Regions from separate parts of the Homo sapiens genome. Here region 1 is linked to region 2. Evidence: fine-mapped expression QTL. A gene starts in region 2. The other region holds a variant in brackets. All regions are shown on one strand. Distances are from middle to middle. Region 1 overlaps LOC102725258 (a long non-coding RNA gene). Region 2 holds the start of CCDC184 (coiled-coil domain containing 184).

Region 1 (16,177 bases), 45 kb after region 2:
ATAGCTTAAGGAAGTTCTTTTCTATTCCTGGTCTGCTGAGATTTTTTTCAAAAAATTACAAACAGACATGAATTTTCAATAAAATAGATGGCATTCCTGCATCTCTTAAGATGATTATGTGATTTTTCATTTTCTGTTCCTGTGGTAATTTACATTAATTCATTTTTTAATGTTAAATCAACTTCAAGGCTGGCACAGTGGCTCATGCCTGTAATCCCAGCACTTTGGGAGGCTGAGGTGGAAGGATCACTTGAGGACAGGAATTCGAGACCAGCCTGTGCAATACAGCGAGACCCCATCTCTAAAAAAAATTTTTTTATATTAGCCAGGCATGGTGATTCATGCCTGTAGTCCTAGCTACTCAGGAGACTGAGGCAGAAGGACCACTTGAGCCCAGGAGGTTGAGGCTGATTGCACCATTGCACTCCAGCCTGGGTGACAAAGAGAGACCCTGTCTCTAAAAAAATTAAATTAAATTAAAAAATAAAAATAAAAAATCAACTTTGAATTACTGGGATAAACTTTACTTTGGTCATGATATAAGGTATAATCTTTTAAATATATTGTAATATACAATTTGCTAAAATTTTGCTTAGGAGTTTTGCAACTATGTCCAAGAGTGAAATTATCTTTTTTGCCGGGGGCAAATTTTAGTTTCAAAGTTATATTTACATCACTAAAAAGGTTGAGGTACTTCCTTTTGTTCTAGTATAGTCAAAGTTAGCATTTTTTTCCTTAATTGTTTGATAGTATCTGCCTTAAAATCATATGTCTGGCTTTATAGAAATATTTTTAAACTATTCATTTAATCTCATGCTTATATGTGTGTTTATGTTTTTCTATTTCTTCTTCAACTTGGAAAATTATATTTTTCTAATAACTTTTCATTTATCTACATTATCAGATTTAATGGCATAAAATTTTCCATAGTATTTTCTTAAAAATATTTAAAACAGCCGGGCGCGGTGGCTCACGCCTGTAATCCCAGCACTTTGGGAGGCGAGGCGGGCAGATCACGAGGTCAGGGAATCGAGACCATCCTGGCTAACACAGTAAAACCCCGTCTCTACTAAAAATACAAAAAAAATAGCCGGTTGTGGTGGCAGGCGCCTGTAGTCACAGCTGCTCGGGAGGCTGAGGCAGGAGAATGGCGTGAACCCGGGAAGCGGACTTTGCAGTGAGCCGAGATCGCGCCACAGCACTCTAGCCTGGGCGACAGAGTGAAACTCCGTCTCAAAAAAAAAAAAAAAAATTAAAACATATATTAGTTTTCTATTGCAGTGTAACGTTACCACAAATTTAGTGGCTTATAGTAAAATTTATCATATGATTTTTTTGCTTTATCTTATCTTACAATATCTTAAAATTTATCTTACAATTTTTCTTTACTATTACAAGTGAAAATTATCTCACCATTTCCATGGGTTGGGAGTCTGGGTATGAACTAGCTGAGTCTTCTGCTCAGTCTCACTAGGTGGAAATCAAGGAGTCATCTGGGGCTGCCATTCTCATCTGAGGCATTGGTCTTCTTCCAAGCTCACTGGTTGCTGGCAGAATCATTTTTTTGCAGTCGTATGACTTACTAGCTGTCATCTGGGGATTGGTCTCAGCTCCTAGAGTTCCTGGCCACACGGCCCCCACAGGCAGTTCACAGCATGGATGTTTGTTTTCTTCCAGGCCAGCAGGAGCATATCACTGTGACTTACAACCCTTCTCTAGTCTGCTACAATGGAATCTTAAACAAGAAAATTTTATATTTTGACTTGCATCATTGAGAAAAACACTGCCAACCTGATCGTGGTTCCTTTGAAGGTAATCTGCCTTTTTTTTTTTTTTTCAGGCTCCTCTTAAGTTTTTCTCTTTGCCTTTCATTTTCAGAAGTTCTAGTGATGTGTCAAGCTATGGCTTTCTTTTTATAAATAAAATATTTTGAAGATATTTAAGGCCTCTTTAATTCCAAGCTATTTTCTCTTCAAATATTGCTTTTGCTCTATCCATTCTTTCTTTCATCTTCTTTATGACATACCTTCATCTTTACCAATTCTTTCTTTCTTTTTGTTTTTTTTTTGTTTTTTGTTTTTTTTTTGAGACAGGGTCTTGCTTTGTTGCCCAGGGTGGAGTGCAGTGGCATGATCATGGCTTACTGTAGCCTTGACCTCCCGAGCTCAAGCTATCCTCCCACATCAGCCTCCTGAGTAGCTGGGACTACAGGCTTGCACCACCACGCCCCGATAATTTTTTGTATTTTTTGTAGAGACAGAGTTTTGCCATGTTGCCTAGGCTGGTCTTGAACTCCTGGACTCAAACGATCCTCCCATCTCAGCCTCCCAAAGTGTCTAGATTACAGGCATGAGTCACTCACTTTACCAGTTCTTTCCTCAGCTACATCAGCTATTGCTTTGCTTTGCTTCTTTCTTTCTTTTTCTTTCTTTCTTTTTCTGTCTCTCTCTCCCTCCCTCCCTTCCTCCCTCTTTCTTTCTTTCTTTCTTTTTTTTTTTTGAGACAGAGTCTCGCTCTGTCACCCAGGCAGGAGTGCAATGGCATGATCTTGGCTCATTGCAACCTCTGCCTCCCGGGTTCAAGCGATTCTCCTGCCTCAGCCTCCCGAGTAGCTGGGTCCGCCACCACTCCTAGCTAATTTTTGTATTTTTAGTAGAGGCAGGTTTCACCATGTTGGCCAGTCTGGTCTCAAACTCCTGACCTGAGGTGATCCACCAGCCTCGGCCACCCAAAGTGCTGGGATTACAGGCGTGAACCACCACGCCTGGCGACATCAGCTATTTCTAATGTGGCTAAATACATAGTGAATGCTCCTGGATCTTGGCTCTAAAATTCTTCACTGCATTTTTAGTTCTTTAATGCCTTTATTGTAGATATTTTAAAATGTGTCAAGCTTTTGGTTGTTTTTGTTGAGATGGTTGATCCAAATTACCTTGTCTATAAATATCAGAAGCAGAAGCCCCCCTTATAATTCAGTCTGCAACATCTGTGCCCCTTTCATTTTTAATATTGTTTATTTAAGTCTGTTTTTTTATAACATAAATCATGCCAGAGAACTGTCAAAGTATTAATTTCTTCGACCTTTATTAGTTTAATCAATCTTTGAATTTTGTTCAATCCATCTATTATGTGCATTTTTTCTTCCTTTCCCTTTCCTTGCATAATGTATTTTATTCTGTGATTAAGTTGTTTGCTAATTTTTAAAATTTTAACTTCTTTTAAGAGAAAGTTCTGCCCTAATTACTGCCCTAGTTATATTCCACAAAATTATATGTAGTTTCATTGTTATTTTGGGTTTCACAAATTTTTCTAATTTTTATTATCGTTCTTTTGCTGAAAGCCAAACATGGATGTTTACAGGTTTTCCATTTAGAAGAGAGAATTTACTTTGTCTGTGTAACCTCAATGAATAAGACTGGAACCAAAGAGAAGAAACATCAGAGAAAAATATTGACTGGTTTTTCTAATTAAAATGCACCAATTATAGCTGACTCCAGATTAGGGAATATACTACAAGCCCAGTTGGGAGAAAGGAAAGAGGATAGAAATCCATTTTTATTTGAATGGATCACTGGGGCCAATTGCACTCCACCTACTTTACAGCCAAAAAGAGCTCATTCATTTGATAGGGGAGTGCCTGTTATGTTGTCAGTATTGTGCTATGTGGCCAGGATACAAAATGACACATGGAAACTCTCTCCCTTCCCTCATTGGTATTCTCCTACATCCCAAGTCATTCTTATATCAGGAAGATAAGTAAGAATATAGAGAACCCATGATATATAGACATTACTACAGAAAAGGATATGTTTATCAGTAGAAATATTTTAAAATCTATCATCTCCAAATAGGGAATATACCTTCTTGTGAAGGGTCGTGGAACATTTACAAAATACTACTGTTGACATATTAGACTATAAAGAAAACTGAATTCCAAAGAGCCAAAACAGTTCAGACCATATTCACTACACTAAAACTAGACATTAAAATTCTGTTTATTTCTTAAATTTTCTTAAACATTTCTTAAACTTCTGTTTATTTTCTCCCCTTGAGATATGAGGAAAGGAGAGCAGGTATCAGCTTGTGCATGGGATTTTCCTTAAGAATATTCTTTCATGTTTTTCTTTTCACTGCAAGAAAACAAATAAATTCATATGGAATATTTTAAATTTAGAATGTGTTATTTTGATTAAGTAAATTGTAGATAACATTCTTCTGGTCAACCAGCTGTGTCATGCAGTCTGTGCACTGCATAGAGGCTCCTGAAGGGAAGAATAGATGCTGAAATCTGGCCTGCACTCAACTGACCAAGCTGTGTATCCTGGCGAGGGGCTGTGTGAATTCAGAAGAAGTGGTGCCTTTGTGTATGTTCATTGCAGCACTATTCACAATAGCAAAGACATGTAATCAACCTAAATGCCCATCAGTGATAAACTGGATAAAGAAAATGTGGTACATATACACCATGGAATACTATGCAGCCATAAAAAGGAGCAAGATCACGTCCTTTGTAGGGACATGGATGGAGTTGGAAGCCGTTATCCTCAACAAACTAATGCAGGAACAGAAAACCAAACACTGCCTGTTCTCACTTATAATTGGGAGCTGAATGATGAGAACACATGGACACACAGAGGGGAACAACACACACTGGGGCCCATTGGGGACTGGGGGGAGGGAGAGCATCAGGAAGAATAGCTAATGGTTGCTTGGCTTAAATACCTAGGTGATGGGATGATCTGTGCAGAAAACTACCATGGCACATCTTTACCTATGTAACAAGCCTGCACATCCTGCACATGAACCCCTCAACTTAAAATAAAAGTTGAAGGAAAAAAAAGCTGTGCCTTTTTTCTAATTCTTCCCTGAGAGGGAGTGACTTTTTATAATTAGCCTAAAGTTTCCATATGTGTTAGAGAAGCCTTGCTGGCTAGGAAGTTCTGGACATGAGACTATTTAAATTTCAGCATTTAGAAGTTTTTGTCTCATAAGATTGATGAAGTCTTTAAATAGTAATAAAAAAGCCTATGTTACTCTAAGTGGGTTCTAGCAACAAAAAGGCAATAAGGCATTTCCTTGAATGCAACGATACTCAAAGTGTGGCCTACAGACCACCAGGAGCAGCATCACCTGGGAGTTTGATAGAGATGCAAACTGTTGAGGTTCATCCCAAATCTAGGGAATCATGAACTCCAGGGATGGGGCTCAGAAATCAGTGTTTTAAAAAACCCTCCATGGTATTCTGATGCACATAAAATGTTGAAAAACAGTGGTTTAACGCAGAGGTGGACAAACCATGGCCCTCAGGCCAAATATAGCCCACTGCCAATTTTTATGAAGTTTAACTGGAATGCAGCCACACCCACTGATTCAAGTATTGTCTATGGTTGTTTCCCACTACAACAGCAGGGCTAAGTAGTTGCCACAGAGACCATATGGCTTATAAGTAGGGTGGCCAGATTTATCAAATAAAAATATAAGTCACCCAGTTGAATTTGAGTTTGAGATAAACAATAAACAATTTTTTATTATGAGTATGTCCCATATGCAATATCAGTAACCCAGCACACGAAATCTATAATACTTACTATCTGGCCTTTCATAGAACAAATTTGCTGACCCTTGCCTACCATAATGACCTTACAGTGAACTTGCTTCTGACAGAGCATGGAAGGAAGCAATGAAAAAAGCCTCACTCCTGGTTGCACACCTGGGATTCTGTACCTGACGGACACCATCCATCCTTTTAGATGATGCATTGAGTCCTAACTATTCCCTTCCCAAGAAAGTTCAAGCCAGGAGATCAATCTGCTTGGGATGGAAAGGTATCTGGTGCCAGTTCTTCTGTTTATAAAACTCAATAGATCAGTTACTTTTCCTATTGTTTAAGTGTCTAGTGTTAAACATATTCAATTAAGTTTTACCAAGGAGATGTTTTCGAAGGATTGTTCAACCAATTCAGAAGTGATTCCGTGACAATAATAAAACTGACATTACCTACTTGAAAATTGAAAAACTAAGAAGCCATCCAAAAACAACTCTTATATTAAGCAGGAACTCAAAACAATTGTAAGTGATCTTAAAAAATTCAGATAAAAGTATTATATATTAACGAATACTGTACACAGATATTTATTGGAGGAAAATTTAATAGCCTGAAATACTTCTATTACTTAACGAAAAGAATAAGGATAAATGAACTTAAATGACACAAAACAAAATGAAATTGCCAAAGAGATTAGAAGCAGATAAACAAAATTAACAAAGGGAAGACCAGAAGCAGAAAATTTGTAAAGATCAAAGCAGAAATTGTTGAGTAAGAAAACAGAAAAAGGGTTGTATGTTTTCAGTAATTTATCTATCTCCTCTAGGTTTTCTAGTTTATGCGTGTAAAGGTGTTCATAGTAGTCTTGAACAATCTTTTTTATTTTTGTGGTGTTGGTTGTAATATTTCCCATTTTGTTTCTAATTGAGCTTATTTGGATCTTCTCTCTTTTCTTGGTTAATTTTGCTAATGGTCCATCAATTTTATTTATATTGTCAAAGAAACAGCTATTTGTTTCATTTATCTTCTGTATTTTTTTTGTTTCAATTTCACTTTGTTCTGCTCTGATCTTTGTTATTTCTTTTCTTCTGCTGGGTTTGGGTTTGATTTGTTCTTGTTTCTGTAGTTCCTTGAGGTATGACCTTAGATTGTCTATTTGTACTTTTTCAGACTTTTTGATGTAGGCATTTAAGGCTATGAACTTTCCTCTTAGCACAGCCTTTGCTGTATCCCAGAGGTTTTGATAGGTTGTGTCACTATTACCGTTGAGTTCAAAGAATTTTCAAATTTCCATTTGGATTTCATTGTTGACTCAATGATCATTCAGGAGCAGGTTATTTAATTTCCATGTATTTGCATGATTTCAAAGGTTCCTTTGGAGTTGATTTCTGATTTTTTCCACTGTGTTCTGAGAGAGTACTTGATATAATTTCAGTTTTCTTAAATTTATTGGGACTTGTTTTGTGACTATCATATGGTCTGTCTTGGAGAAAGTTCCATGTGCTCATGAATAGGATGTATATTCTGTGACTATTGGGTAGAATGTTCTGTAAATATCTGTTAAGTCCATTTGTTCTAGTGCATAGATTAAATCCACTGTTTCGTTGTTGACTTTCTAGCTTAAATCAAGAATAATTAGAAACCCTGAACAGAACAATAACAAGCAGCAAGATTGAAATGGTAATACAAAAGTTACCAAGGAAAAAAAAGTCCAGGACCAGATGTATTCACGGCTAAATTCTATCAGACATTCAAAGAATTGGTAACAATCCAATTGACATTATTCCACAAGGTAGAGAAAGAGGGAATCCTTCCTAAATTATTCTATGAAGCCACTATCACCCTAATACCAAAACCAGGAAAGGACATGACAAAAAAGAAAACTACAGACCAATATCCCTGATGAACACAGATGCAAAAATTCTTAACAAAATACTAGCTAACTGAATCCAACAGCATATCAAAAAGATAATCCAGCATGATCGAGTGGGTTGCATGCCAGGGATGCAGGGATGGTTTAACATACACAAGTCAATAAATGTGATATGCCGCATAAACAGAATTAAAAACAAAAATCACATGATCATCTCAATAGATGCAGAAGAAGCATTTGACAAAATCCAGCGTCTCTTTATGATTAAAACCTTCAGCAAAATTGGCATACCAGGGACATACCTCAATGTAATAAAAGCCATCTATGACAAACTCACAGCCAACATAATACTGAATGGGGAAAAGTGGAAAGCATTCCCTCTGAGAACTGGAACAAGACAAGGATGCCCACTCTCACCACTTCTATTCAACATAGTACTGGAAGTCCTAGCCAGAGCAATCAGACAAGAGAAGGAAATAAAGGGCATCCAAATTGGTAAAGAGTCAAACTGTCGCTGTTTGCTGATGATATGATCATATGCCTAGAAAACCCTAAAAACTCATCCAGAAAGCTCCTAGAACTTATAAATAAATTCAGCAAAGTTTTAAGATACAAAATTAATGTATACAAATCAGTAGCTCTGCTATACACCAGCAGCAACCAAACTGAGAATCAAATTAAGAACTCAACCCCTTTTACAATAGCCACAAAACAAACAAACAAACTTAGGAATATACCTAACCAAGGAGGTGAAAGACCTCTACAAGGAAAACTACAAAACACTGCTGAAAGAAATCATAGACACCACAAACAAATGGAAACACATCTCATGCTCACGGATGGGTAAAATCAATTATTGTGAAAATGACCATTCTGCCAAAGGCAATCTACAAATTCAATGCAATTCCCATCAAAATATCATCATCATTCTTCACAGAACTAGAAAAAAAATCCTAAAATTCATATGGAACCAAATAAGAGCCCAAATAGCCAAAGCAAGCCTAAGCAAAAAGAACAAATCTGGAGGCATCACATTACTGATTTCAAACTATACTATAAGGCTATAGTCACCAAAACAGTATGGTACTGGTATAAAAATAGGCACATCAACCAATAGAACAGAATAGAGAATCCAGAAATAAACCCAAATACATACAGCCAACTGATCGTTGACAAAGCAAACAAAAACATAAAATGGGGAAAGGACACTCTTTTCAACAAATGGTGCTGGGATAATTGGCTAGCCACATGTATGAGAATGAAATTGGATCCCCGTCTCTCACCTTATACAAAAATCAACTCAAGATGAATGAAGGACTTAAATCTAAGACCTGAAACTATAAAAGTTCTAGCAGATAACATTGGACAAACACTCCTAGAGATTGGTTTAGGCAAATACTTCATGACCAAGAACCCAAAAGCAAATGCAACAAAAACAAAGATGAATAGCTCAGACTTACTAAAGAGCTTTTCCACAGCAAAAGGAAGAATCAGCAGAGTAAACAGACAACCCACAGAGTGAGAGAAAATCTTCATAATAATACATCTGACAAAGGGCTAATATCCAGAATCTATAAAGAACTCAAGCAAATTAGCAGGAAAAAATCAAACAGTCCC[A/G]TAAAAAAGTTGGCTTAAAAGAAGATATACAAATGGCCAAAAAATATGAAAAACTGCTCAACATCACCAATGATCAGAAAAATGCAAATCAAAACCACAGTGTGATACCACCTTACTCCTGCAAGAATAGCCATAATCAAAAAATCAAAAAAGAATAGATGTTGGCATGGATGCTGTGAAAAGGGAACACTTCTACACTGCTGGTGGGAATGTAAACTAGTACAACCTATGGAAAACAGCATGGAGATTCCTTAAAGAACTAATAGTAGAACTGCCATTTGATCCAGCAATCCCACTATTGGGTATCTACCCAGAGGAAAAGAAGTCATTATACAAAAAAGATACTTGCACACACATGTTTATAGCAGCACAATTCGTAATTTCAAGAATATGGAACCAGCCCAAAGGTCCCTCATTCAATGAGTGGATGAAGAAGTTGTGAGATATATATACATATATATACGTATATATATATGTATATATATGTGTATATATATACGTATATATGTATATATATGTGTATATATATACGTATATATACTTATATATGTATGTATATGTGTATATATACGTATATATACTTATATATGTATGTATATGTGTATATATACATATATACGTATATATATACACATATACATATATATATATATATATATAAAATGGAATACTACTCAGTCATAAAAAGGATTGAATTAATGGCATTCATAGCAACCTGGATGGAACTGGAGACTATTATTCTAAGTAAAGTAACTCAGGAATGGAAAACCACACATTGTATGTCCTGAGTCATAAATGGGAGCTAAGCTATGAGGATGCAAAGGCATAAGAATGATACAATAGACTTAGGGTACTCAGAGGAAAGAGTGGGTGGGGGTGAGGTATAAAAGACTACAAATAAGTGCAGTGTATCCTGCTCAGGTGATGAGTGCATCAAAATCTCACAAATCACTACTAAAGAACTTACTCATGTAACCAAGTACCACCTGTTCCCCCAAAACCTGTGGAAATAAAAAAATTAAAAAAAACAAACCAGAAATAGAATAGAATCAGTAAATGAATTCAAGAATTGGTCCTAGGAAAAAGCCAATAAACGCCGGGCATGGTGGCTCACACCTGTAATCCCAGCACTTTGGGAGGCCAAGGTGGGCGGATCACCTGAGGTTGGGAGTTTGAGACCAGCCTGACCAACATGGAGAAACCCCATCTCTCCTAAAAACACAAAATTAGCCGGGTGTGGTGGCACATACCTGTAATCCCAGCTACTCAGGAGGCTGAGGCAGGAGAATCGCTTGAACCCTGGAGGCGGAGGTTGCGATGAGCCAAGATCGCGCCATTGCACTCCAGCCTGGGCAACAAGAGAGAAACTCCGTCTCAAAAAAAAAAAAGCCAATAAAATAGACAAACTACTGTCTATCTAATAATTAAAAATGAAGTGGTAGAAAGAGAGCAAAAATACACAAATTTTAAAAGGTGAAATAATCACAGCCACAAAGAAAATAAAAATAATTATGCAACAGTACTTTGCAAGACTCTATGGCAATCACTTTGAAAGCCAGAAAGAAGTAGGTAATTTTCTGGGTTAATATGAATCAATAAAATTTGTTGAATGAAAGATAGAAACAAAATTAAATATACTGAGTGAAATGAATGTAATGCAGTAGTTCTGAACCTTGGCTTTACATTGTGGTCACTTGGAGAGCTTTTAAATATCCCCATCCCTAGGATGCATACCAGACCAATTAAAATAACATATTGGAGCTGGGCATGGTGGCACATACCTGCAGACTCAGCTACTCAAGAGGCTGAAGGGAGAGGATCACTTGAGCCTGAGAGTTCAAGGCTGCAGTGAGTTATGATTGCACCACTGCACTCCAGCCTGGGCAACAGAATAAGACCCCTTCTGTGAAAAAAAAAAAAAAAAAAAAAAAAAAACCAGGAAAGAAACACTCAGGTATTAATATTTGAAGAAAATCTAATTGACAATAATTATATATTTATAGAAAACAATGTGATGTTTTGATATGTTAGCAAAATGATTAAATCAAGCTAATTAATGTATCTACCACATCACATAGGCAACAGTATTATTTATTTATTTATTTATTTATTTATTTATTTATTTATTTATTTTTACTTTTTAAACTTTCATTTTAAGATCAGGGGTACCTGTGCGGGTTTGTGACACTGGTAAACTTGTGTCATGCGGGTTTCTTGTACAGATTATTTCATCACCCAGGTATTAAGCCTAGTACCCATAAGTTATTTTTCCTGATCCTCTCCTTCCTCCCACCCTCCACTCTCCATCCTCTAATAGGCCCCAGCATGTGTTGTTCCCCTCTATATATCCATGAGTTCTCATATTTAGCACCCACTTATAAGTGAACACATGTGATATTTGTTTTTATGTTCCTGTGTTAGTTTTCTAAGGATAGTGGCCCCTAGCTCCATTCATGTCCCTGCAAAGGACATGATCTCATTCTTTTTTATGGCTGCATAGTATTCCATGGTATATATGTACCACATTTTCTTTATCCAGTCTATCAGTGATGGGCATTTATGTTGATTCCATGTCTTTGCTATTGCAAACAGTGTTGCAGTGAACATACATGTGCATGTGTCTTTATGATAGAATTATTTATATTCCTTTGGGTATATACCCAGTATCTGTCTTTAGGTCTTTGAGGAATCACCACACTGTCTTTCACAATAGCATCAGTATTTTTTAAAAGCTCCCCAGGTGATTTCAATGTGCAACCAACTTTGAGAGCCATTCAGATAGAGGAAGTTAACAAAAGGCTATGCCTCAAAATAGCTTCAGGCCCCGATAGCTCCATAGGTAAATTTTAAATCTTGTAGCAATCGGATATTTTCAAGGCTAATGAAACTGTTTGCAAGGACAGAAAAAATAAGGATCGCTGATTACTTTCACAAAGTCATCAAACCATTGAGACTAAAACTTGAAAAATTATACAAAAGAAAATTATAACTAAGGTGATTTATTAATAATGGTGAAATAGACTAAATTATTAGCAAATGGAATTCAGCAGTGCATTCAAAGAATAGTACATCATGACCAGGTGAAATTCATTTGAGGGATTAAAGGTTCTTCTAATAGGGGGAATCCCACTAATACAACTCACTATATTAATATTTCAAAGATGAAAAACTTCTAATCAATTATATAGATGTTTAAAAGGCATTTGATAAAATTTGATGTTGATACCCAGTTCTTAAAATTTTTTTAGTAAAATAGGACTAGAAGGATGCTTCCATGTCATAATTAAAACTAAATTAACATAACTAATCTAAATCAAAGTAATTACATACTGTGTGTTAGGTATTGTTTGTTCTGTATGTGTTATTAGTAGTAATCGTTTTAAGCTTCACAGTAATCCTATGAGGTAGGAGTTCTTCTTTTATCCTCATTTTACAGATACAAAGAAAGGGTCAGTAACTTGTCCAAGGTATACAGTAAGTGGTAAAGCTCAAATTTAAACCTCAGGAGTCTGATTCCAGAAGCTGCATTGTCAACTAACTCTCCACACTGCTTTGAGCTTTTGGGTGCCCTGCAAGTACTAGCCAAAAGCATTTAGACAAATGAATTAAATGAGTGGTGTGCTGGTTAAGTGTTTAACAAATGGCTCTGGGTGGGGGGTACCTTATTTGTAGCATTTGCCAATTTTCATGGTATAAACAATTCCACAATGACTTATTTCAAATTACCCATGAGACACCACTAATCATGGAGCTGGGAAGAGATATGTTAGGTTGCTATTATACGGCTTTCCTACCATACGGATACAATAGACATAAATAATCTTGAGAGTATAGATAATAGTAAAATATAGTGACAAAATTAGGAAGTGATGATGAATTTTAAGTATTTATTACCTTCGTTTTAAAATATTAATAATGGCTATGTTTAACAATCAATTTTCAAAACTCTTGAAATTTAACAATTGGCTCTTGAGAGCTGGTACCAGCTGGCTCCACTACATCACTTGGAATGAAAATGAACAGGCAAAATTATTATTTGAAGATGACATTTCTGGGAATAGGGTGCATTTCTGCCCCTCTCTTCATGTCTCTGCCTCAGCCTGTAGGGAGGCCAGAATTTCTACCTAAACTTTTTCCATTAGGAGGAAATAACAGGTAACAATTCTGACCCTACTGTTCATCTTTGCCCTAGAAGTAGTCTTCATATCCCTCAGATTGGGCACTGGTTACATATATCATGGCATGTACACAAAATGGGACAATTTTTTTGGAAATCTTGTCTTACCTCCTTCTATTGCTCTGACTGGGAATGATCTGTTTGTTGCAGAATCACTGCAGCAGGTGCGAGAGAGGACTCATGGAGCTTGCAGATGAGCTAGCCCAGGTAGGACATCTGATGTTGGGACCCTCTTCAGAAGTGAAGCATATATAATCCCACATGAAATCTCTCAAGCCATTCCAGAAGAATGTTTTCTCAGATAAAGGTTATTTACCTATTTATAATAATTTATAATTTACAAAGCATATTCATATATATGATCCCATCTAACTCATAAAATTATATGAAATGTATACTATCTCCATTTTACAGATGGGGAAATTGAGCCTCAGAGTGATAAAGTAACTTCCCCAAAGTCATGTAGCTAGTAAATGAAAGTGATGAGACTCACACTAGGTTCTTCTAAGTTTTTAGAGTACTTCGTCCACGGCGCCAAGGTGTCTAGGGCAGAGACACCACAACCTCCTAAGGTAGGTTATGCCATTAATGTTCCACTTGGGTGGGAATACACACACACCCACACACACACTATAATTCACACTTCCTTATAGTTATATTCCTCATTCTTTGAACTTAATCCATGGTAAAGAATTATTTATTATGGTGGGGTAGAAGGAGACCCTTTGAGATTTGAAGACACTGATTAACCATGTTAGTGTTTTTCCTCAGGCAAAATATTCATGGGCTCTTTTACCATAACTTGCTGTCCTTATTTCCTCATTAAATTTCAAGTTTCCACAAAATAAGAAAAGAAACAACTAAAGAAGAAATTGTTGGAAGGCATGGAGCAAAGTGTAAGAACAACTAAGTAAACATGTACATTTTGCATTTTTAAAAAATTCAGTGGCCATAATACCACTGGCCAACAGGCTGATCAAATAATCCCTGAAACAAAGAGTTATATGTTACGGAGGGGATTGAATCAGAATACAGAAAAGAGAGACTTGAGAGGTTAAGACAAAACATCCTGGGAAATACACCTATTAAAATATGGTAACTAGCTGTTCTCCATTTCTTTCAAGACAGAATGGGAAATGGAGGTAAACACAGCAAGAGTATTAGTCGGTTAGACAACAGGAATATTTTGCTGATTTTTGTTGTTGTTGTTTTGTTTTTGTTTTTGTTTTTGAGACAGTGTCTTGCTGCGACACCCAGGCTGGAGTGCAATGGCATAATCTCGGCTCACTGCAACCTCCGCTTCCCGGGTTCAAACAATTCTTCTGCCTTAGCCTCCCTAGTAGCTGGGACTACAGGTGTGCACCACCACACCTGGCTAATTTTTTTTTTTATATATATTTTTAATAGAGATGGGATTTTATCATATTGGCCAGGCTGGTCTCAAACTCCTGACCTCAAGTGATCTGCCTGCCTAGCCTCCGAAAGTGCTGGGATTACAGGCGTAAGCCATTGCTCCTGGCCTTTGCTGATTTTAATGAGGGATTTGAAAGCATCAAAATGACTGAACAAAGGAGCAGTGAAAAATCTTTCCTGGGGTCTTTGGAAAAAAAACAGATTCCAGTGTGTCAGATCTTTCAAGGCAAGATGGTCCAAGAGCAACGAATGGACAGTTGCCTTCATGTCCTTCTGTGTTTTCTTTCTTGTTTAACAGCATCAAGGTACATCCACTCATTTAAGTGGGAGCCTGAATGTCATCGTCCACTCACTCATCTCCATAGCCCTTCATGTTCTTATTTAAAACCTCCTTCACCCTTCCCATGTATCCTACAATCCAGTTACTATTTACCATACACAAACCCATCCATTTGTCTTTACTTTCTATAACCTCATATTAGAAGTGATGATGTATTTGTTCATTCAGTTTTTATTTGGTGCTATGATGTGTTCTCCTCTCCCTGCCTCCATGTTTTTAACACTTGCTTTTTCTATGGAATGTTCTTTGACTCTATGGGCACCTGGTGAATTCTTTCTCGTCTTTTGTGATGCGGATCATATGCTATCTTCTCAAGAAAGCCTTCCCCCCCAAACCTAGCATTTTCCCCTTTCTTTTAGAGAAAGCAGCTTTATTTTTTTAGAGGCAATCTCTTTTATCTGCATATTTGCGCTTTGGGCCACAAGTGTCGTGGACAGTTTATACAAGGTCCAAAAAATAATAAGAAGAATTAAATTGGCTTTGTAACAGATGATTCTGGGCAAGAGACCAATACTGAGAGATTTAACAATTTTATCATGAATTAGCTAAGAAATAAATACTAACTATAACAGAACTAATTTAAAAAACTAGAAATAATATAAAATAATGAAACCACCTTTGCAAAAATTGTAACAGTGAGAAAATTATGACAGTGAAAGAGATCTGACCTAAGTGACTCCATCTTGCTTCCAACCTCCAACCTGTCCTCGTTCATTCCTGGGCATAGGCCAAACTAACTTTGGGAGGAACTTAGTTTATAGTTTCAACTTTGAAACAAAGATGATAACAGCTCTTTCCTGAAACAAACCCTCTTCTTGCTTTATAGGACTAACAAATTAGCCACAAGTTTAGAAATTATGGTTTAGGAGTTAGGCAGCGAGAGGTCACAGATTCCAAACCTCCCCATTTACAATAGGGATGACATCACTATTGTAAAATCTAAGATTGGTGCTCAGAATATTTTTCAGACCCTGAACTTGATGGGTCAGCTGCCACCACGCAGATGGATAAAGTGGCTTATCTGGTACTGTGGCCCCCACTCAGGAACTGACTCAGCGCAAAGAAGACAGCTTCAACTCCCTATGATTTCATCTCCAATGGGACCAATCATCACTCCCCAGTCCCTGGCCTCCTATGCACCAAATTATCCTTAAAAAACCCCAGTCTCTTAATTGTCAGTCTCTCCAATCTCTGAATTTCCAGAAAGAGTTT
Region 2 (16,177 bases):
TCAAACAATCCTACTCCCTCAGCCTCCTTGGTAGCTGGCACTACAAGTGTGTGCCACCATGCCCGGCTAATTTTTGTATTTACGGGGTTTCACCATGTTGTCCAGGCTGGTCTTGAACTCCTGGGCTCCAATGATCCTCCCACCTTGGCCTTCCAAAGGGCTGGGATTGTAGATGTAAGCCACTGCACTCAACCTCTCACTTTTTAATCTCTTGAAAAAAAAATAAATGACTATTTAAAGTAGAAATAATAAAAATCCGGTTGGGTGTTAGCATACGTAGAAGCAATATGTATGACAAAAACAATAAAAAACATAAGGGAGAAACTGAAAGTAAATTGTTATAAGATTTTTACACTATCTAAAAGTAGACTATGATATGTTACAGGTGTATATTGTAAATCCTAGAGCTGCACTGTCCAATCTGCTAGCCTCTAGTCACATGTAGCAGAGGAATAGTCTTCCAGGCAGGAGATCGCAAGGGCCTGAGTATGGCATTGCTTGGGGAAATAGGGAGAAGAAAATGGATTAGAGAAGCATCTGAGGGTATTAAGAGACTGTGGTAATCTTTCTATTGTGAAAAACATGCAATCATTTCAGAATTCATTCAACTTTTGGTTTGGAGTTAAAATGTGGGAGGTAGAATTGCTGAAATAGCACAGAGCTGGTCTCAGGGATATGTAAAGCTGTTTTTTCCCAAGCTAAACTCAGACAAGTAAGACTGTCTTCTGGTTTTCAAGGCTTCCTGGAGAGGAAATGCAGGCTCGTTCCTCTCTCACACATCCATCACTCTCAAGTTCTTTAAGAAATCTAACCTAAATGCTTTATCCTGCATCTTGACCTCACAGTGGAAGTAGGAATAATGCTAGTTTGTCTCAGAGTTACAAATCCTTTGAGAAATTCTTTCTAGCTTTTCCTTCTCTCACATCTGTTGACTATTTGCTTTCTTCCATTAGGTCTTAGGTCTCAAATTACAGCAGTAAGTTTCAAATTACATCATCTCCATCTCTTAGAATCTTTCTCCACCATCTCTCCTTTCTAGGAAGAGACTCTCCCCTAACACACTAGTTTAAGTCCACAAGTATGAAGCAGAGGAGCTTATGTCCCACAGACCTCCCTGCAGTTTAAACTCAGTGATTTCAGTGTGAATAATGTGAAATTGTGAGCAGTTTATCATTTAATATACCTGGAGGTGTCTTGGATGATACTCATTGTTCTAATGAGCAGCAAAACTACTAATGCCTTTGGTAAGAGGGAATTGGTTTTTAATAGTATAAGAAGCAGCTGGAAGCCCATGTGTGCTATGGTGATGGATGAACTGGGATGAATGAGAGATTGGATATGTGACTCAGGATCATCCTCTGAGGAGAATCTATCCCAGTTTAACTCATTTGATCCAGGCAATTACCAGTAAACCTGACATACTGTTCCCTTCTGCGTCTTAGAGACACAGACAACACTGTGGAGAATAACAAGACCTTACCAAAAATGTCTCACTTAGGTTGTTTAGAGACTAACCTCAATTTCTGGAATATTATTTTTCTGATCCATGTTTGCTGTTTGGTTTTAATTTAGTTTTACTATCCTGGGAAGGCTGACCTTTATGTATTTTTTGTTATATATTTGATCAATATGGGGAGTTTTTGTCTGGTTTGGTTTTAGAACAGAAGCAAGGAAAGGAGGCAGCAAGGGACAAGAAGGACTCAATTTTATTACAGTAAAACATGTAACTCGGTGATAGCACTACCCTAAATCACCCTAGTCTACCAGTTTAGGAACACAAAGAGAAGACATACACAAGCTTTAAAGCATAGTAATCTCTATGTTCATAATGTCCCTTTCTCAGTTAGCTACTAATCTTACAACCAGAAACAGGGTACTTTTTCTGAGGCTGTCTCCACCAGAATAAGAATATAAATCAGGAGTTCTCCTTAGCATGCAGTATGAAGATACAGGCTTGATATCATCCCATTCCCGGGTAATGCTGAGGGGAGCAGAGAGCGTGCATTTCTTTGACCCTGAGTTCTGACAAAACTTGGCCCTGGTATCTTTGAGACTTCGATGGGGATAGTGGTGGAATATCCCAAGGGAGGTTAGAGGGGTGGTGACAGCTCTCATTTCAAAGCTGCAAGCACTTTTCTATTTTGTAAGAAATAGAGACTTCCATTTGTCTCTGAAGTAAGTATTCCTTTGTTCAAGAAAGGCCACCAACAGGGCCACTTAATAGTGTGACCATAAGCCATAGATTACCGAAGTAGATGGTTGAAACTGAAAAAGCTAAAATGTTCTCGAAGAAAAGGCAGAGTTGGAGCTTTGCAGACTACATGTCCTTAAGGGAGTTGTTTCTTTTTCTAGGTATGGATTTAGACTTCATTCATTCATCTATTCAACACATATTTATTGAGCATCTGCCATGTGCCAGGCACTATTCTAGGTGCTACAGATAAGGCAGTGAAGAAAACAAACCCCCTGCTCTAATGGATCTTACACCCTAGTTGGGAGTAAAAGATAAATAAATAAGACATAAAATAAATAAACAAAAATACAGGATAACAGATATTGATAACTGGTGTGGAGAAGAATAAAGCAAAGCAAAAGGATTAGAGTTCCAGCATGAAAGTGATCCTGGTGCTTTAAAACAAACAAAAGAGCAGGCATTGTGCCTATGAACTGTGAACGAGTGGTCAACCGTAGAAGATGGAGCTATTTTTATGCAAGACTTCTTAAAATAGGGGCCTCGGGGTTCTAGGTGGAAAAGTTGGGGGAAAGGGTCCTTCTCCTCACTTTTGCCTAAGATCCAGCACTTCTACAGTACTTTGAAGACATGGATTACATTTTGGGGCCCCTGTCCATGGTATCATCACAAATACTAGTATAGTCTCCATCTGTGTTTGGGCAATGGAAACAGAATGCACCCTCACAGTGGCTGCTAAACTGTAACTGATAGTGCCTCGCTGGCCCTTGAGAATGTGGTAGAAATAACTTTTGACATTATTTGGGGGGGCCTCTGAGAGGGATGGACTTAGTATAACTAGATGTATTAGTAACAGGGAGACCTACAAAGTTTTGTAGAATTGCGTAGGATAGAATAGCACAGACTTCCTCAAGATATGACAGGCAAGGAAGGTCCTGGAAGTTTGCATAAGTCAGCTATGAGGGACATTAAATTCCTAAAAATACCTTTAATAGAAGGGAAGTTTATGGCACACATATCATAGTCCCTATCCTACCATAGATATTTGGACATGATTTCCTTCAAATTGGACTGATACTGTGGGAGAGGCAATTGGTCAAACAAAATTGCCTCCATTGAACTAGAAATTGGTTTTTCAGGTGGTGCAGCACTGTCAGTGCCTGACTTGGGGCCAAACCAGGCTCTAAGCTGTTGCAAAAATGGCAACTTTCTGGGGGCAAAATAATTTATGGAAAAGATGGAAGGTGCTTGAGACCATGCACCAGGGATCATTGGTGGTTCTGGAGTTCTGAATGCTTCTGTGTCCATGGCCAGCTACCTAGAGACTTGGGTTGGAACTGGTGACATCACAGTGATACTGAATACATGTTTGAATATGCACTGAGAGGGGGAAAAGGCTCTGCAAGTGTTGATCTAAGAGAAGCTGCTGCAGGGGGCAGTGCAGAAAGGGGAGATGGGATGACACTGGCAAAACAGGTTTAATTGGAATGGGGGGTTATTGTCAGTGGAGATTCATATTGCATGAGAAGTTGGAAGGTCCCCTAGAATTCTTGCTCTGAGTTAAATTAATATGGAAGAGAAATAAGAGGTTAGGGGTAGCCTTAAAGACTCCTAAAAATAGTTTGAAGTCACAGAGCAAGCAACTGGAAGTGTAGTTCAGGCCTTACGTGAGGTGTGGGTAGGTGGCTCACCACACGGCCATGTCTATGACACTAAATAATCTTGAGGGTGTGGACAGTTGGATCCCCTCTCCAGTTAGAGGCTCATAAGGGCCCAGGGTCTTTGCAAACCACCATGTCCATTTCTCTGTGCAAACGTCGGGGAGATGAACAAAGCAGATTGGCTGTAATGCCAGGTAAACCACTCTCTGGTGCTGAGAAAAACTAGCCTATGTGACAGGCAAAACCCACAACAATGCGAATATTCTCAGCCTCTCCATCTTTTTTATCCTCTGAGAAGACCCCTGTAATTGATAGCTGGGATTCCCAGTACTTATGCAGATTGGGGGAATGAGGAACAGAATCAAAAGAGCTAAAATAAGCTTGGCCTGATTTATGTGAGGACAGGAAGCTTCTTGGAGGAGAGAAAAAGAATACATCCAAGAAGTGAAGAGAGCCAGGGAGTGAGAAAGCAAGGGCCAGGCTTGAGAGAAAGTGTGGGAGTGTTTGGGGAGAGAGAGACCAGCAGCAACAGCTATGCCATAATGTGTGGAACAAATAGAGAAGGAAGGAAGACAAGTTTCAGATGTTTCGCTGTGCACTAAGAATGTAAACCCCTTTAAAGTTTGCCCAGAGACTGTAATAAAAATCTAAATTTCTTTTTAATTCTTTTGGCTATTGGATATGTTTGAGTGTGATATCAAGCTGTGATGGGCCACAAAACAGGTCAGCTTCATGAAAGTTATATTTGGGGGATACTGTCTGGGATTTGGCGCCTAAGGTACAGCAGTCAGCTATATCTTGTTTTAAATCATTGCTCTAGACCTGAGTCTAGCCAGCATCATCGGATTTATAGTGCAAAAAATACACCAGCTATAGAAAATAGAAACTAGAGATACACGAGACACCAGACAGAGGAAAATGGCAGAGCCTCTTCCAAATCCCAATTTTAGTGAGAATATGAGGTTTGAAACTAGGTGTACCTGATGGAAACCTATATGTAGATAGCATGAGGGTCTCTCCCTATCACAGATTGATAAGAGTGGGATGAAGAGAATAGCTAAGGGGATTCCCAGAGGATAATAGAAAAGCAGGAAGCAGAAGCTGTGCGGGGGTTATATTCTCTTATTATGTGGCAGTTCCTCTGAATATTCTAGTAGGATGGCTGGGGTATACATCTGGCCACCTTTTGCTTGGAAATGGACCCATGCAACTAACTATAGGGCATTGGGATCCAGAGGGCCCAGGCCTGTAACCCATCTAGCTGACTGAGGCTCTGCCTCTGTTCTCCTTATTCTCCTTATTTTCCTGAGACTAGACTTTTCTACCTCATCTCATTTTCACACAGAGTTCCTGAAATGATCTGGTTTTCTATCAGATGCACCAATGTCTCCTTCCTATATTTTCTTTTTCTTTTCTTTTCTCTTTTCTTTTCTTTTCCTTCCCCTTCCCCTTCCCTTTCCCTTTCTTTCTCTTTCTTTCTTTCCTTCTTTCTTTTCTTTCTTTCTTTCTTTCTTTTCTTTCTTTTTCTTTCTTTCTTTTTCTTTCTTTCTTTTCTCTCTCTCTCTCTCTCTCTTTCTTTCTTTCGACTAAGTCTTGCTCTGTCACCCAGGCTGGAGTGCAGTGGCACAATCTTGGCTCACTGCAACCTCTGCCTCCTGGGTTTGAGCGACTGTCCTGCCTCAGCCTCTGGAGTAGCTGGGATTACAGGTGCCCACCACCATGCCCAGCTAATTTTTGTGTTTTTAGTACAGACAGGGCTTCACCATGTTGACCAGGCTGATCTCAAACTACTGATCTTAAGTGATCCACCCACCTCAGCCTCCCACAATGCTGGGATTACAGGCATGAGCCACCGCACCCAGCCACCTTCCTATATTTTCAAATCCTGCTACTGGTCCACTCCCCCAGTTCCCACCTACCCTTGGCTCTCAAATGTTTGACCTGGAACTTGACTGGACCAGCCAAACTGCTTGATCTCTGCACATGTTTCCCATGGCCTTTTGTGCTTCTCCAATAATTTCCCCTCCCTCTGGGCTCAGATCCCTTGTACTCTCAGTGGACTTCATGGCCAGCACCTCTGGACAGCATGATGTAATCTTATGCTGAAAGCCTTCACATCCTCAAGAATAGTGGCAAAAGGCCTTGTATGATGACATACCATAGCTCCTCCTGTATGGGGGCTATGCTTAGTGTAAGCTTATGGGATTTCAACAATGAGAGGTCCCCCACTGGGACAGAGTCACTCTTTGTAGGTAGAAGGTAGGGATATACCTGAAGGGTGAATTGGCAAGATGAAATCTTCCATGTGAAGTGCTTGTCAAGAGATGTAAAGTAACAGACCTAGACAGAAAGTCTGAAAGCCATGCCAGTCTTTTCTGGCTATAGCAGAGCTCTCCTCGGAAGGATGAAAGCAGGGTTGGACCTATAAGCCCTGAGAACATGCTTGCTGTAGTATAATCAGAAACTTATGCTGTGTAAGCTCAGCTGTTTTCATGTGTTCTGTTTCTATTTCTAGTTTTCCTATAGTTTTTAATAAAGTCTCTTTGTAAACACCAGCCCACTTCAGCTGTGCTTATGGAAACCAAGGAAAAGCATTTCTGTCCTCTCTTGAGCCAGAGTTTCAGGAGTAATCTAAGGTGTTATTACCACGTGTGGGGTACAGAGCAGAGGTAGGAGTCCTAAGCAAGGTGAGAGTGCTGGAAATCTGTAGAATGAAGGAAGAAATGAGCAAGCAAATAGAATTGAATCATTAGTTTCAGAAAATACAATACTGTGTTTTTAAAATTTGTTCATATATTTGTTTTGGGAAATCAAATTTTTAATGGCTGCATAATACTTTATGTATCAGCAATTTTGCCTTAGTTTATTTAAACATTCTGCTGCTGGTCATTTAGGATAGTCCCCACTTGTTTCTATTTTAAAAGCAGTAAGATTGGTATAGGTCAAGCAGTCCTCTAGTGTCACAAAACTTTCCCTGGGCCAGCCTCACTCTTCATCACCAAGCACATAACCAGGGAAACCCAAAGGTAACACATTTGCTGTCACTGAACCGCCAGTCTACAAAACACTCACCTTTACGTAGTTCTTCTCTATCTTGAAGTGATATAGTTTGTTTCTCTTTCCCAGATTTATTCTTATGAACTTCATTTTTGGCTTCCGATCACTTGGCTTCCCTAATTTCCTAGGGTCATTATTAATTATTGTGCTCTGCCCAGGTGCTGATTCCTTCTCAATCTGCAATCATCTACGTATATTAAAGACAATTTTTCTTCTTCCTCCACCCTTCCTGCTCCACCCCTTAAATAGGGAAAGGGCTTGTCACAAAGGTTGGGGATACTCAGTGTATGTCTGAACTTGGGCACTGAAAGAGAGAGCGGGAATTACTCTAACACACAGTCCCCCCATCCATACCCTCCACACAACGGTCAACAGTTTACCTTTTCACCTGTGAGATGATGCAGACTGTTATTCAGAATTAGAAATAGTATTATAGATTATCCAGTCCAATTCCCTAACAGATGAGGAAAATGATGTGGCCAAGGTCGCTGAATGAATAAGTGGCAGAAACGAAACTGAATTCAGGTCTCCTAAAACCCACTACGTTTGGCTTGGGGAGTTCTGGATGAGAGCGTGGGACTTGGTGGTTTTTGTTATTCATTCAATAACTATATTAAGCATCTACATACTAGGTGCCAGGCACTATTTTAGGAGCTGGGGATTCCGTGATGGAGGGTGCAGGGGAGACAAAAATCTCTCCCCTTATGGAGCTTTCATTCTCAAAACTTAAGCACTTGGCCTCCCCATCTGGGACAAACTCCCAGAGACCTGCGTAGGAGCGGTAGGGTCTCATAAAGGAGGGAGTCCCATCCTTCCCCCGCTCCGGTGATTTCTATAGCTAGAGGGCTGATTTACTGCAGAAACCTCCGTAGCGCCCTCCTCCTGCCTCTGCACCGTCAGGCCCGGTGGGTCCGGCTCCAGAGCGCCACCGTGCCCCAGCTCAACTCTGGGATCATTAGCAACAGCCTCTCTACCCTCTCCGCTTTCCTGCGCATCGCTGGAGGACAGGGAGGCAGGACTCGACTTTAGCGCCATCCTCTGAGAAAGGAATGCGGGCTGGAAAAATCTTTCCAGGGCAGTCTCGCTGGGTCTCATACCCCGGCTAGGGGAGGGACGATCTCTCCCGGACTTGGAGGTTTCTGCAGCAGACGGCTCTCTCATACTTCCCTATTAAACATTGCGACCACACGCTCTTTCCAGCCTTGGCCGAAGCCACTGTAGCGTCCCCTCTCCTCCCCCCACCCCGCTAGTCCAGACTCCAGAGCCCCACTGCAGCTTCCAGCCATCCTCCCTTTTTCTTCGCCACTTCCTGGTTACCATGGAGACACACGTCATTTACGTGCCGTGCGTCGCCTTGGAAACAGAGGAGCATCCGCGACACCCCCGGGAGACCCACCCCAGCTGCTGCTGCCACACTCGCGGGCGCTGCCCGGTAATGGCCTGGGGGAGTCCCGAGTCCGACGCGCCGCTGGCCTCAGCCTGGACGCGGACCCCTCCGCGAGCGCGTCTGTGACCCACGGAACCGGCAGGCGCTCTCTGCTTGTGGCGCCCAGAGGGCGGCGCTGACACGGGCGCGATCCGGGAGGCGAGGCAGGGCAGGGCACTTTCGTCCCGGGGCGATCCCAAGAGACGCCGGCTCTGGGACCCTCGCCGGGTCCTCGTCCCGCAGCCTCTTCTCGGCCTCCCGCGATCCTGCCTGCGCCCTCTGCCCAGGACTCGTCTCTCACGTCGGCTCCCCGCCAGTCTCGGGAGCCTCCGCTTCCCTCGGCTCCCGCTAGCCCCTCCCGGGACCTCTCCCCCTCCACCCCCTCCCCCACCCCGGAGGCCGGGCTGGACGCGACCCAGAGCCTCCGCCACCCGCTTCTGCCACTCAATGGAGGACGGTCTGCTGGAGATCATGACCAAGGACGGCGGCGACATGCCGGCGCCCCTGGAGGTGTCCACCGTGCCGGCAGTGGGGGACGTGATCTCCGGGGAGTACAACGGCGGCATGAAGGAACTGATGGAGCACCTGAAAGCCCAGCTGCAAGCCCTGTTTGAGGACGTGAGGGCCATGAGGGGGGCCCTGGACGAGCAGGCCTCGCACATCCAGGTGCTCTCGGACGACGTGTGCGCCAACCAGCGAGCCATCGTCTCCATGTGCCAGATTATGACCACTGCGCCCCGCCAGGGCGGCTTGGGCGTGGTCGGCGGCAAGGGGAGCTTCCAGAGCGACCCCCAAGAGCCGGAGACTCCTTCGCCTGGGATCGGGGACAGCGGCTTGCTGGGTCGCGATCCCGAGGACGAGGAGGAAGAGGAAGAAGAGAAGGAGATGCCCAGCCCCGCCACACCCTCCAGTCACTGTGAGCGCCCCGAAAGCCCCTGTGCTGGTCTCCTTGGGGGGGACGGGCCACTTGTGGAGCCCCTCGACATGCCCGACATTACCCTGCTGCAACTGGAGGGCGAGGCCTCCCTGTGAGGGGACTCCGTGGGGCACTACCTTCCCGGGCTGTCTTTGGGTTTCCGAGTGCATGACGCGAGGGGGACTGAACGGCGCGGTGCGGCATGCTTCACTTGGACAGCTGCTCTTGTGGGTCAGGCAGAGAGAGACTCCCTCGAGGAAGGATTTGTAGGGTGAAGGACTTTGGGAGCATCGAGAATTCTTTCTGCCCAACTAAGCGAATTATAGCGAACTGCGGAAAGGTGAGGCTCCGGGAGAGGAAGCGCCCATCTCTGGACTCCCATCCATCCCTATCCTGTCCTTTCCCCCTTCCCAGACAACAGGAGAACCCGTGAATTGTGTAAATAAAATTCTGCTTTTTCTATTCTGAAAAAGGACTTACCTAGGACCATGGCAAATAATCTCTAACAATTTACCTGGAAATTAAGGAATTGGGGGTATTTTGTTCTGGCAACAGGAAATTTACCCTTCTGCTGAAATCCAAGATATTCAGTGCTCTGCAGAAGCCTCTCCCCCTCACAGATCTCTGCGGCTGCTGATTGGTAAAGGAAGCTTGAGGAGGGAACTGCAGCCCTAGGAATCTGGGTGAATGGGGTTCCAAGGGCCCCTGGGCTGGGAGGAGCTGGCTATGAATGTGCATGAAGACATAATAGCTCAACCTCTAGGATTTTGCATGCAGAGCGGATCCTGCCTTGTCACTGACTTCATCTGGGATTGCTTTTCCACTCCCTGGGGCTTAGAGAACAAAGAGCCCGGTTCACAGGCAGAGACTCGGGGGTGCTCAGCAGCAGCCCAGATTTAGGGGACATTTGAGGGACTCTTGGGGCCGCAGCCAAAAACTGTCTCTCCTGGCTACACCTGCTTAACTTCAGTTCCTTTTTCTGTCAATATGTCCTTGCCCACTGCCTCTCGGTGTTGCCTTCATAATGTCTTGTGTGTGTTATGTGTGTCTACTTGTGTAGTAGTGTGTGAGCCCTCAGGGGCAGGGCTTGTGGCTCTGGTGTTAGGTTCAGGGGCTTCAGACCCTTCTACGAGCTCCAAGCTATCAATGGCGCTTTTCTCTCCCTCTTCCCCCAACCAGGGCATGGAGCATGTGGCTGTCCTGAGGTTCTTTTACTGATGTGCCGCCCTTCCACCTCCTCAAGTGGTGACTTTGTGTGCCCTCCCCCTCCTTTGTGTATTCCTTCTCAATGCTTTCCTTGGTGTTAACCTTAATAAAAAGGCGTCATCTCCCCTCCTTGCTGACTGGTACTAAGGGGATATCAGGGTGGGTCTTAGTGGGAACTGCAGGGGCCATGCCTTCCCTCCTCTCTCCTTGCCTCCAGTTCAAGGAGTTGACTGTCCCTGCCCTGGTTGGGACAGGCATTGCCAACTCTCCCTGCTTTCCCTTCTGTCCTGGACCTTGACCTCAAGCTGCCCTGGGGAAGGAGGTGGTAAGTGTTGAGACTCCCATGCTAACATGAGTTTTTAGTAGCCAGAACTCCAAATGTGCAGGAGACTTCTTTTTCAGTGAAGCATCCCAGTGAAGCCCTGGGAAATGATTTCCAAATCTGGGTCCTGGAATGGCAGATACTGCACCTGTTCCATGGAGGGAGTGGGGTGGGGGTATTGTTCTGGAGGGATTGCCTGGGATCTCTGGAAATAGTGACACATCACAAAGGGAAACCACAATAACTGCCTCAGGCCTCTAGTGGAGAACCCGGGTAAGGTGTTCCCCAGAGGGCTTGACTGACAGCTCTAGTCTACTCCCTTGGGCAATGGAGATTTCTTGAGGCTGCCCCTGAACAAAATTTGAGAGCAGAATGAGCTAGGGTGCCGTGTGTATATGTGCATGTGTGTGTGTATATGTGCGTGTGTGTGTGTGTGTGTGTGTGTGTGTGTGCGCTAGCTGCTGGTAGCTGCAGAGTGGTGGAAAGAGAGAGCACTAAAGACTTAAATCTCAGTTCTAACAGTTGAGTGCTTGAGGCTTAGTTTCTGGATATGTAAAATGGGGACAAGAAGTTGTTGGGGAGAAAAATATATAGGACTCCTAGGAAGTCTTGTGCAAATGTTAGTTTCCTTATAGTTTTATTGGAGTAGGGGGTGGTGGTGACTGGCTCCTCTGGGAAAACAAAGCTACCCAGGGAAGGTTCTAGAAACTTTCTTTTTATATAATCTTTTCCTATCTGAAGAATCCTTGAGGCCGGGCGCAGTGGCTCACACCTGTAATCCCAGCACTTTGGGAGGCCAAGGCAGGCTGATCACCTGTGGTTGGGAGTTCGAGCCCAGCCTGACCAACATGGAGGAACCCCATCTCTACTAAAAATACAAAATTAGCCAGGCGTGGTGGCACATGCCTGTAATCCCAGCTACTCGGGAGGCTGAGGCAGGAGAATCACTTGAACCCGGGAGGTGGAGGTTGTGGTGAGCCAAGATTGTGCCATTGAACTCCAGCCTGGGCATCAAGAGCGAAACTTTGTTTCAAAAAAAAAAACCCTTATTCTTCTTTAGAATTAGATATTAGTTGTTCTATCTAATTCTACTTATCTGATTCTATCTACAGAATTCTAGTTATTTAGAATTAGACGGGACTAAGGAAAGGGGAATGGTGAGATTCCTAAGCTAGCATGGACCTTTTCATCATAAATGAAAGGGTCATCATGAATGTCATGTAACTATGGGCCAAAAAGGTCTTGGGGGACAGCCAGACCTGAACACATAGGCTGGCCAGAGGAATCTTGAGTTATGCAGTGATTGGGGAATGTGTGCTGGGGGCCCTAGAGAGAGCTGCTAAAGTATATAAGTGGGAAAGTGTCCCTGAGGACTGGGAGATAGGTTCCTATTATAGTTCCAGCAGTAGGCACTAAGAAAAACAGTAACTATCATTGATTGAGCATCTACTATGTGCCAGACACTGTACCTAATTTTATCTCCCAACAGCCCTATGAACTAGGCACTATTATTATTTTCATATAACAGACTCTAAGATGCTCAGGGTCACAGGCTAGTACTTGGCAGAGCCAGGACTTAAACCCAGATCTGTCTGACTTAAAAAGCCCTAGATGGAAACCACTTTGCTAACTGCTCTCTTATTTGGATCTTCAGAGAGCGATCTTCAGTTTGGAGAAATAAGGGTATCGAAGCCTAATCCAATCCTGAAAAGGAAATAACCTTAGTTTTGGTTACTTTTCATCTTCTTAGTTGGAACAAGAAATTGCAGTTCAGATTTTGGTTAGTGACCCTTCCCAGAGTCCAGTGGGTGGTAATATAATAACAGCACCAAGAAGATGGCCTCCTGAACCTGTTCCTTAAGAGGAAGAAGCCGATGCTCCCAGGTGTTCTCTCACACAGCTCCATTCTTGTGCCTCTTTCCTGTTCCCTATATCTCAGATTCTCCAGAGTCTGACATGAATCCCAAGGGCACCTTAGGGTGGGCGCGGTGGCTCACACTTGTCATCCCAGCTACTTGGGGGACTGACGTAGGAGGATCACTTGGGCCTAGGAGATTGAGGTTGCAGTGAGCCATGATTGTGTCACTGCACTCCAGCCTGGGCAACAGAGTGAGACCATGTCTCAAAAAAAGCCAAGGGCAGTTTAGCTCTTTAGCCTCTGTAGAACGTTCTGGCAGAGTCTTTTAGCCTTTGACTCCAGTTCCCCTTCTTATGCCCACTGTCCTCAGTCCCTTAGGGCCTCTTTGAAGTTCTTTAACCATTGCCCCCTCAAGTCCCAGATAGATAAAAATCTCTCCAGAAAAAGCAATGCTTCAACCTTATTCAGTCACCTGCGCCCAGCATCTCACAACGATCCAGCACAGATAGGAGGTCCTTGTTTCTCCCTATTCCCCACTCTCCTCTTGCATTTCTCATTTGTAATGCCTCCCGACCTCTTCTCTTCTCTGATGAGTGAGTTTCAGCTGGGATTCCTAAGCGCAGACTCATGGGCAAGGGTCACAACTGAACTTCAGAGGGCCACAACCCCTTGAAATTGAATGCAAAGTCATTACGTATGTACATTCTCTAGAGAAATGTACATTGTTTCAACTTTATTCTTAAAAAGTAAGAATTAAGTTAAAAAAAAGGTAAGAATCACTGAGATAAAGGGCAATGAGACTTTTTAACTTGAGAAATACCCAAGGGGAAATGACTTTTCCCTAACCTGGTACTCTTGGCATCCTTTCCTCCAGAGTTTTCCACACTGAATTGAATTTTTTTACATAAATCTGATTACTCATCACCTATTCAACACATTCAAATTCTGTTGACACTCATGATGTTCTAAAAATCCTGTCTCCCAATACTTCCGAGTCTGCTAGTACTTGGAGTTTGCTGGAGCATTGCTGATGTTGTGGAGGTGAGGAAATAGCCCCTGCCATGGCTTTATACCATTTTATGTCTGGGGCCAACACACGCTGTGCTGCGTGTAACTCATCACAACTCTTTCAGTTTCTGGCACTCCCGTCTCACACTAGTTTAAGGGGCCTCTCTCAGGATTTAGCTCCTATTCTCAAGATGAAAACATGTATAGCTTCATAGAAGTAAGCTACAATTTTATCCTGGTATGGCTAAAATCTGCTCTTAGAGAAATTGTTATTTCCCTAAGAGATGTAAGCTGGCCTCCAACATGAACACTCAGTTTTACATGATCTCAGGATCACCATAAATGATAGTCTCTGTTTGATATGTATGATGAAATGGCTCACCTAGTAGTTTTCCCAGAACTAAGGAATAGTCCTTACCCAAATATATTTAGGTGTATACTTCTTGCAAGACATAAAATTGCTTGCATCTTTGAAAAGGCAGGTTTTCAGAAGCATCTTCCTCGTTTGTATGCCTTGAAGAAGAAATTCAGCCAGGATACCTTGGTATGGTAAGAAATATTTTTGAACAAAAGACATGTTTTTGAATCTTTTACTCTAGCTACCATTTCCCCTCACATTTAGACTGTCCCCAGAAAGTGAATTCTCTTTCTGCTTGGAAGCACTGTGCTTATAGAAGCAACCCTGCTCTGTAAATAATGCTGTAATGGTGCCACCTGTCGGGAAATAGGGACATTACAAGGGGAGCCTCAGGGAATTTATGGCTTTCACTTCAACAAGCACTATCAGATGCCTGCTAAAGTCCTGGCTCTCTGTCAAATGGTGGGTGGCAAGGAGAGAAGAGAAAGTAAATAAATAGAATGTATATGAAGAATGTAAAAAACAACTGCAATATACTCCTGACTTGTCTCCCCTGGCCTTGCTCACATACCTTTCATCCGAAGGTTAATCTTCCTAAACCAGAGCTCTGAACATTCATTCTTCTCGAAATCTGTGTGTCCCTAGTGCTTCTTAAACTAAGTTTAAAATCCAGTGGGCGTGGGGAGTCAAGGTCCTCCCTAATTAGGCCCGGAATATTTTTTAACCTATATATTTCATTTCTCAACTACATCTTCTAGACACCATCCCACCAGGTAAGAAGCCCATATCATCCCAGTCAAAGCTGGAAATGATTCCCAGGGGTATCCCAGTTTCTTTAATCCCTGAGTGAGCCATCTAAATGAGCGCCCTCTGGCCTCAATTCCGTATCTCTCAGTCATGCTTCCCAAGTGCAGTCAGATGCACATCTCCTCCAGAAAAAGGACTTCTGCAGCCTGGGCCACCTGCACCAGCCTCTCAGAGGTGTTCCCCACCTCCCCTTGCCCCTTTTCCCTCTCTCACGCTGTGAATGGGAAATCCCCAGAAATAGCATGTAAAACTTTTTGACTATGAATTTGTGCTTTTATTTCAAGGAATAGGGTTCATAATTTTCATCAAATTATTAATGAAGCCTGTAAAGTCAGAAAGGGTAACTAACTCTAGTTAAAATGTGCATGCTACTCACCATTTCCCAGAAATGCCCCTCATTTTCCTGCATCTGGTTTTCTGGTCATTCTCTTTACTTTCCTGCTCCATCATGTCTCTGTTAGTTAGAACTCTACCGGTTCTCTAAAGCCTTTCTCTAATGCTACCTCCATCATGGAGCCTTTCCTGATGTGATCTCTTCCTCCTTAAAATGTCCAAATCTTTTTCTTTGTACCTATTTGGAGCATGGTAACTGTATTTTGCCTTACTTCTATTATTCCTCATGTGCTTTTATATTCTCCCTTCTGGATTATCAGTTATCTTGAGAGCTGGAACTGCTTTCTCATTTTTATAGTCTCTGAAGTATCTATTTTATTGACTTTAAGGCACAATTGACTGTATGGCATCCTATTTTAGGTACCATTAAGAAAGGAAAAAACACTGTCAAATTATCGCTATGCTTTCTTATATTTATATTTTAAAGTTTCATTCTTAAAGAACTCTTTTAGAGTTGCTTAGAAATAGAACTTAAAAAAATCACTACTATGCACTGAAATAACTGAGTCATTATGGTATTATTTAATTTTTTTCACACTGAGTCTGACACTTGAATCACTTTTTGACTCAGAATATTTGATGTATTTTCCCATGCATTTCTATTCTCTGGGCCATTTTGAGTATTAGTGAAGTGGCATTTCTTATAAAGAAAAAAAAGTCCTCTAGTATTGTCTATGGGAAATTCTTCCAGGCTACAATACCTAGTATGCAAGTTTTAATGCTGGCACATTTTTTGATCTTGCTAGAACATGTTCAGGGAAGGTGTTCAGACAACAACTAGGACTAATATTCCTTCAAGGGTCATTAAATGGTTGATTAACTGAAACATCAAGGGATTATAGATCAGGCATGTGTAGGCAATGACAACTATGTCATGACTGCTGTGTGGCCAACAGTAATTGAAGGCTGCCATCAATTATAAGACACATTCCATTTCAGAGATGTTACAGTGTGGGGTGGGGGAAAGTCTGTCT

The links. PIP is the estimated chance that this variant, and not a neighbour inherited with it, causes the effect. A credible set is the group of variants that fine-mapping cannot tell apart.
Region 1: its variant is the best candidate, but not a certain one, in a credible set for the expression of CCDC184 in whole blood (TOPMed, PIP 0.60).

What each region holds. Positions count from the first base shown.
Region 1 is chr12:48,220,249-48,236,425 of GRCh38, forward strand. It overlaps LOC102725258 (a long non-coding RNA gene), which reads left to right. Exons shown (of 3, transcript XR_001749122.3): 2 at 1,678-1,812; 3 at 13,363-14,468. Among named protein-coding and RNA genes, the nearest start is that of OR10AD1, 25 kb to the left of the region's middle. The variant A/G (reference allele first, on the strand shown) is at 9,036.
Region 2 is chr12:48,175,341-48,191,517 of GRCh38, forward strand. CCDC184 (coiled-coil domain containing 184) reads left to right here and starts at 8,304. Exons shown (of 1, transcript NM_001013635.4): 1 at 8,304-10,586. The coding sequence starts at 8,783. The coding sequence ends at 9,367.